Homo sapiens: one gene and its partner. The protein of the gene in region 1 interacts with the protein of each later gene in a pairwise test. Each region holds a gene or a part of one and is shown on either strand. Other genes may lie near its edges. The genes, in order: KIR3DL3 and OLFM4.

Region 1 (3,829 bases):
AAAGGAGAGGCTCCCAATCCCCATCAGGAACAGGGACACTGATGCCTGCCTTACTGATGAGTTCGTACCTCCTGCCGGCCTTTCCAATCTGTCCAAAAGAGATTGATTCAGGCTGCTAAGAGCCTGGACATGCAGCCTGTCATGGTTCCTCTTCCACCCCCACATAAACACCAGGAAAGAGATTAGTGGGAAACAGATACAACAGCCTAAGAGGTGACACTGAGCACAGTGGGAAGGGAATCAGGGCTACTAGAGACAGAGAGACAGGGAAGAGGGAGGGAGACAGATGGAGGGACCTGCAACAGGGGTTATGGGCACAAAAGAACACGGAGACACAGACAGGAAGGAGAGAGATAGACACCATGGAGGGGAAGCCTCACTTATTTCAGGTCCCATGAATGGGATGAGAAAGGGAGACGCCTTCTGAACTCACAACCTCTCTTCTTAGGAGTCCACAGAAAACCTTCCCTCCTGGCCCACCCAGGTCCCCTGGTGAAATCAGGAGAGACGGTCATCCTGCAATGTTGGTCAGATGTCAGGTTTGAGCGCTTCCTTCTGCACAGAGAGGGGATCACTGAGGACCCCTTGCGCCTCGTTGGACAGCTCCACGATGCGGGTTCCCAGGTCAACTATTCCATGGGTCCCATGACACCTGCCCTTGCAGGGACCTACAGATGCTTTGGTTCTGTCACTCACTTACCCTATGAGTTGTCGGCTCCCAGTGACCCTCTGGACATCGTGGTCGTAGGTGAGAGAATACAGACCTGCCTCTCACCCTTGCTGGGAGATGGAGTGAATGATCTAGGACTGGAAGCCCCAGGTGGTCATGAGGAAGATGAGTGTGGGGTTCCTATGGAGAGAAAGTGACTTGGTGAGGTCTGTACCAACAAAGGCAGAGAAACAGGAGACACAAGTACAGACCTCATGTCATAACATAGAAGCCAGACACAGGGGCCATACAAGGTGTTAGAAAAAGAGATAAAGAGGTAAAGAAGACACAGAGAGACAGACATATCCCAGAGAGAGGTGTCCTTCTATGCTGACTTTGTTCAGAGACCAGGCACAGGTTAGAAGGTTCCATTCTGTTTTACCTCTACAAAGTGTTCTCTCCCAGGAGAACCCAAAGAGACACATCTATCTGGCCTGAGTTGGGCCATGTGGCCCCAGGCTGGTGGCACCTACAGATGTTGTGTTTATTCTTAAACCTCTGCCTTCCGTGCAGTGGAGCTGTCATCGTCCCAGGACACCATGGCCCCAGGTGAGGGAGCAGAACACCAACCCCTGTATGCTGTGAGTTCCTGGAGTCCCCATACTGGATTCTGAGGCTCATATTCAAATAGCACCACATGTTATAGGATTACTGAGAACAAAAGCCCACAGAGAGACACGGAGTGAAATCAGGGAAATCAAAAAGCAAAGACATGAACACACACACAGAATGAGCCAGAAGAAGGGAATTGAGAGACTCACAGACACATAAAGAGATAGAAAAAGAGGGCAGAGAAGTGGAGCGTATGATGGAAGGAAGCAGAGAAAAGCCCTAAAATCAGAGCCCTGAGGGAGGGGCACAAAGACAGGGAAAGATAAAGATGTGAGGATGGATTGCAGAGACTCCAAAAGGGAACTAGAGAGACTGAGAGGCAGAGAAAGACAAGGAGATGGAGAGAGACAGATGATAGATGGACAGATAGATATAGATAGATGAAAGATAAAAGGTAGATGATAGATAATAGAGAGACAGGTGATAGACAAATAGATGATGAATGACTGATAGATGATATAGATAGACAAGTAGAAAGACAGACAGATGATATATAAATAGATATAGAGAGATAGAAAGACAGATAAACACATGATGATAGATGGATAGATGCATACATACATACATTGATTGATAGATGATAGATAACAGAGAGATAGGTCATAGATACACAGATGATGATAGATGATAGATACATACATAGATAAATGATAGATCGATCAATAGATAATAGATAGAAATATGCAGAAAGTTATGAGCAAGACAGAAAGTGAGAGACTCAGAATTAAAGAAAGAGGAAGATCAAGTCAACCAGTCCAAGGAGGGTCAGAGAGAATAAAATGGTACAAAAAAAGAAAACATAGCTAGGGATGGAGAAGTGAGGTCAGAGACCTAGAGAGACAGAGAAGGTGGAAGGAGGAAATAGACATGAAGAGAGATGGGGGTGGAGGGTGAGAGAGAGAAAGAGAGCATTAAGTCATAGAGCAGGGGAGTGAGTTCTCAGCTCAGGTGTGAGGAGAGCTGTGACAAGGAAGAACCTCCCTGAGGAAACCACCTCTTCTTCTTCCAGGTCTATATGGGAAACCTTCTCTCTCAGCCCAGCCGGGCCCCACGGTTCAGGCAGGAGAGAATGTGACCTTGTCCTGCAGCTCCCGGAGCTTGTTTGACATTTACCATCTATCCAGGGAGGCGGAGGCCGGTGAACTTAGGCTCACTGCAGTGCTGAGGGTCAATGGAACATTCCAGGCCAACTTCCCTCTGGGCCCTGTGACCCACGGAGGGAACTACAGATGCTTCGGCTCTTTCCGTGCCCTGCCCCATGCGTGGTCAGACCCGAGTGACCCACTGCCCGTTTCTGTCACAGGTGAGAAAACACCATGCCTGTCCCATGTCTTGTGATCCTAGAGCCATAGCTGAGGAGCTTCCTGCTGATGATGGAGAGAAGCATGGACAGATGCCGAGACAGAACACACAGCATGGGTGTAAGGGCGGGGTCAGGGCGCAGGATGGCAGACAGGGCACCTCCAAACCCTCCTGTATGGCCTGCAAGGATGCCCTTGATCAGGGTTCCAGGCACCCAGGCAGATGGAGAAAGAGGTCAGAACAGACCCAGAGGAGGGAGACTGGGCTCTGCCTGGGGAGATCAGAGGTTCTCTCAGCCCCTCAACCTTACCCACTTCCCAGAAGCCCATCCTGGCCTGTCACCCACAGAGAGATGTCATCACCAGCAACGCCTACACCCTTTTCTTTTTGTTTGAAGAAATATTTATTGAGGTGAAATATACCTATGTAATTTACCACCTTTACCATTTTTAAGTGTGAAGTCTACTGTTCATAAATACATTTATAGGCTGGGCACGGTGGCTCACGGTTGTAATCCCAACACTTTGAGAGGCCAAGGCAGGTGGATCATTTGAGATCAGGGGCTCAAGACCACCCTGGCCAACATGGGGAAAATCCATCTGTACTAAAAATACAAAATAATAATTATAATGATAATAATTAGCCGAGCATGGTGGCACATGCCTGTAGTCCCAGCTACTTGGTAGGGTTGGGCAGGAGTTGCACTTAATTGCAGGAGGCGGAGGTTGCAGTGAGCTGAGATCATGCCACTGCACTGCAGCCTGGGCAACAGAGAGAGACACTCTCTCAAAATTAATTAATTAATTAATTAGTATTCTTTTTTTTTTACCCTCCACCCTTCCCTTCCTGGCCTCTGGTAGCCACCATTCTACTCTCTACCTTTGTGAGATCCACCTTTTAGCTCCTGCATATGAGTGAGAAATGGAAATACTTGTAATGACCTCCAGTTCCATTCATGTGGCTGTAAATGACAGGATGTTACTCTTTCTATGGATGAGTTGTCCCTATTGTGTGTGTGTACCACATTCTCTCCATCCATTCACCCACTGATGGGCAGGTAGGTTGATCCACATCTTGGCTACTGTGAACACTGCTGGAACAGTCATGGGAGTGCAGATGTCACTTCGATACGCTGATGTCCTTTCCTTTGGGTTTACACCCAGTCATGGAATTGCTAGATCCTCTGGAAGTGTCTTTTTACATTTT
Region 2 (3,829 bases), on another chromosome or scaffold:
AAAAAATGCAGAAAGTGCCCCAAGTGCCAGATGTGGGACTGGAGGCTCCCAGGCAGGCTGGGCTGCCTCTCCCAAGACTGCACCTCCCAGGAGGAGCTGACATGTGGTCAGCATTGTCCACGCATTCCCAAAGCTACAGATTCATATATGTGAAAAGTTCATATGAATGATTTACTTAAATTAGTAAAGTTCACACTCTGAAGTCTTTCTGGCCCATCCCCAAGCTCTTTTGTGTCTTCTCTAACTCCATGGATGATTGCCATTTTCCTGAACACCACTGAGCATCCTTTAAGTGTCAGCTGAAGAACCTTGAGTTTTTTCCTCAAATGGATCTTTACAGACCCTTCATTTTGTCTGCACCAGGGCAGGCACACCACACATTTTTATAGGTAACAAACTCCAGAATATGCCTTGCTTTTTTTTGTGAAAATCTAGGAGAACCACATTTTATTTAGCAGAGATGACAGTTGAATCACTCATTTTTGTAGAACAACAGCTGCGATGTGCCACCAAAATGTTCCAGAGAAGCTGAGGGTGTTTCATTTGTTCCAAGAGCTGGCAAGGCCAAATGCCAACAAGCATATTTATTTCTCAAACTTCCATTTCTGTAATGGATTGGCACTTTATTTATTTTTATCATAGTCAAGGTTTTATGCCTGAGTTTTGTAGACACTGGAACCTGGCAGCCCTATATCTGCAGTGCACTTCTCAGGGGGACTTGTTAGGTTTTATATATAGTGAGCCCTCCATAGCCTTGGTTCCGCATCTGCAGATATAACCAAACTCAGATTGAAAAATTTCACGGAAAAAAACTAATAAAAATAACCATGTAACAACAGGAACTATACAAATAAAAAACAATACAACAATGATTTATATAGCATTTACATTGTTTTAGGTATTATAAGTAATCTAGACTTGATTTAAAGTATTTGGGAGGATGTGTGTAGATTGTAGGCAAATACTGTACCATTTTCTGTCAGAGTCTTAAGCATCCTTGAATTTTGTTATTCTTGGGAGGTTCTGAAACCAATCCACCATGGATACTAAGAGGTGGCCGTATATATGTTTTAACCTCCCTATCCACCAAAATATCACCAGCTTTGTCATCCTCCGAGTTATGGTACATCCAATGGCAGTGAGCATCAGTTGCCCGAGGAGATACACTAGCAGTGCCAAGGACTGTTTTTTCGACTTTCATTAAAATCCTTTTTGCCTGAAGCCCTAGCCCTTCAGGTCTGTGGTCTATGAGTCTACTTTAATTTGCACAATGGGGTTAAGTGGAAGGGCTGAAATGACAGAAGTTAGGATTGCTTTTGGTATAAGAAGGATTAAAGGCCAACATCTGGCTCTAAATTCATCCAGGCACTGTGGATCAGCTACTTGATATTAGTGTAGTTTTGGGAAAAGTATCACTTCAGTTCAAATTTTTAAAAAGCATATAAAGCCAGCAACTTATTTAATGAGCAGGTCCTTAAAAAAGCCATGGCATTTTCTTTAGAGATCAGACACAGAAAGAACCACCAACTGTGTTTATTAAAATATCCACTTGGATATTCCAATTATACACTAAACTGCCAAGGGAATTTTTGGAAGTATTTTAACTTAATGATCAGACATTCAAATATATGCAACAAATCTGTAATTTAAAGGTCTGATTGCAATAATCAGTTCTTGGAATAAATGTGGGTGCACTTAATGAAATGTGTACTCTACAGGGCACACACACTCACATATTGTGTAGTAGGTTGGATCTCTATGCCACTTTGTAAAAGGCAGAGGGGATCAAAACTAATTGTATATGGCGATCAAAGAAGGAATTCGGCATAGCGCATTTCTCCCTTCTCCAGAAAATACTTAGATGTAGAGCCATGTTTCTAAATGGAAGGAGGGTGGTGTTGGCCGTGGCAACGATTTTGTCCCCAGGGAACATTTAGCAATGCCCAGAGACATTTTTGGTTATCATAACTGGAGAGTGGTTGGATGCAACTGGCATGAAGAAGCCAGGGATGCTGCTTAATATTGTGTAATTCACAGCACAACCCCCACAAGAAATGACAATCCAGTCCCAAATGCTAACAGTGCTGAGGTTGAGAAACAATTAGAGTAAGTGTGTTGAAGGGAGGAGAGATGGCAAGAGACTATGATACAAACCAGTTTAGTTTGGGGAGTTAATGTCTTCAAACATTAAAATGGAGATTAAGAAAAAAGGGCTCAATATCACTTGATCATTAGAGAAATGCAAATCAAAGCCATAGTAAGATACCATCTCATACCAGTCCAGAATGGCTATCATTAAAAAGTAAAAAAATAACAGATGCTGGTGAGATGGCAGAGGAAAGGGAACATTTATACACTGTTGGTGGGAGTGTAAATTAGTTCAGCCATTGTGGAAAGCAGTGTGGTGACTCGAAGAACTAAAAAGAACTATTATTCAACCTAGCAATCCCTTTACTGGGTATATGCCCAAAGGAATATAAATTGTTCTACCATAAAGATACATGGGCGTGTGTGTACATTGCAGTACTATTCACAATAGCAAAGACATGAAATCAACCTAAATGCTCATCAATGGTACACTGGATAAAGAAAATATGGGCCATATACACCATGGAATACTTTGCAACCATAAGAAAGAATGAGATCATGTTCTTTGTAGGAACATGGATAGAGAGCTGGAAGCCATTCTCCGAAGCAAATTAACACAAGAACAGAAAACCAAATACCACATGTTCTCACATATAAATGAGAGCTAAATGATGAGAACACATGGACACAAAGAGGAGAACAACAGAAGCGTACTTGAGGGTGGAGGGTGAAAGGAGGGAGAGGAACAACAACAAAAAAATCTATTGGGTGCTAGGTTTAGTACCTGCGAGACAAAATAACCTTTACAACAAACCCCCATGACATGAGTTTACCTATATAACAAACCTGGGTATATACCCCTGAGCCTAAAACCTTTTTAAAAAATGGAGATTAAAATATACCTGCAAATGATGATGCTGAAGCAAAATTATGTTTAGCCTAGCAAAGTATAAAATCTACCTCCCTTCAATTGGAGTAATAAGTTCTTTGTATATGGATAGATTTTAAAAATCTAGTTAAATGTATTTTTGATCTATTTATTTACAAAACACAATGATTGGCAAGAATCAAATAGTTCTCAACTCAAGGGCTCGGTAGTGGAAGAAGATGGTGTGATACTACTCAGGGAATTGGCTTGAACCTTTTGATTTTCTTTCAGGTGAGGGAATATGTCCAATTAATTAGTGTGTATGAAAAGAAACTGTTAAACCTAACTGTCCGAATTGACATCATGGAGAAGGATACCATTTCTTACACTGAACTGGACTTCGAGCTGATCAAGGTAGAAGTGAAGGAGATGGAAAAACTGGTCATACAGCTGAAGGAGAGTTTTGGTGGAAGCTCAGAAATTGTTGACCAGCTGGAGGTGGAGGTAAGGAGTGAACTCACTTCTTGGTAAATTAATAATAAACTCCCTTCAGTGACTGTAAGCAAGTACTAGTACCAGGAAGTGAAACTATCTCTTCCAACTTCTAATTCTCTACTGTCTCATGGCCACATGGCATATCACTATGTTCTGTTTTGGATAAGGGCATGTGTTTGAATAGTAAGTTAAGCACATTGGGAATGTGCTGACTTAGGAGCAGATGTTGTCTAATGGTCAGAATCCTGCCCCAGAATAAAATGCCCTTTCAACTTCTCTGAAAAGGAGCTGGCATAAAGTTGAACAACGGTTCATGGCCAAGCTATATGAGGTGTCTTCTCTGCTCTAGATTTATCCTCATGGAACTAGAAATCCACA

What was found.
Region 2: the proteins of KIR3DL3 (region 1) and OLFM4 interact in a two-hybrid assay, tested with the Homo sapiens proteins (one large-scale study listed by BioGRID).

Annotation. Positions count from the first base shown.
Region 1 is NC_000019.10:54,727,163-54,730,991, forward strand, and holds part of KIR3DL3 (killer cell immunoglobulin-like receptor 3DL3 precursor), read left to right. Parts: intron 1-448; coding exon 449-748; intron 749-2,330; coding exon 2,331-2,624; intron 2,625-3,829.
Region 2 is NC_000013.11:53,038,663-53,042,491, forward strand, and holds part of OLFM4 (olfactomedin-4 precursor), read left to right. Parts: intron 1-3,247; coding exon 3,248-3,460; intron 3,461-3,829. UniProt on the Homo sapiens protein: May promote proliferation of pancreatic cancer cells by favoring the transition from the S to G2/M phase. In myeloid leukemic cell lines, inhibits cell growth and induces cell differentiation and apoptosis.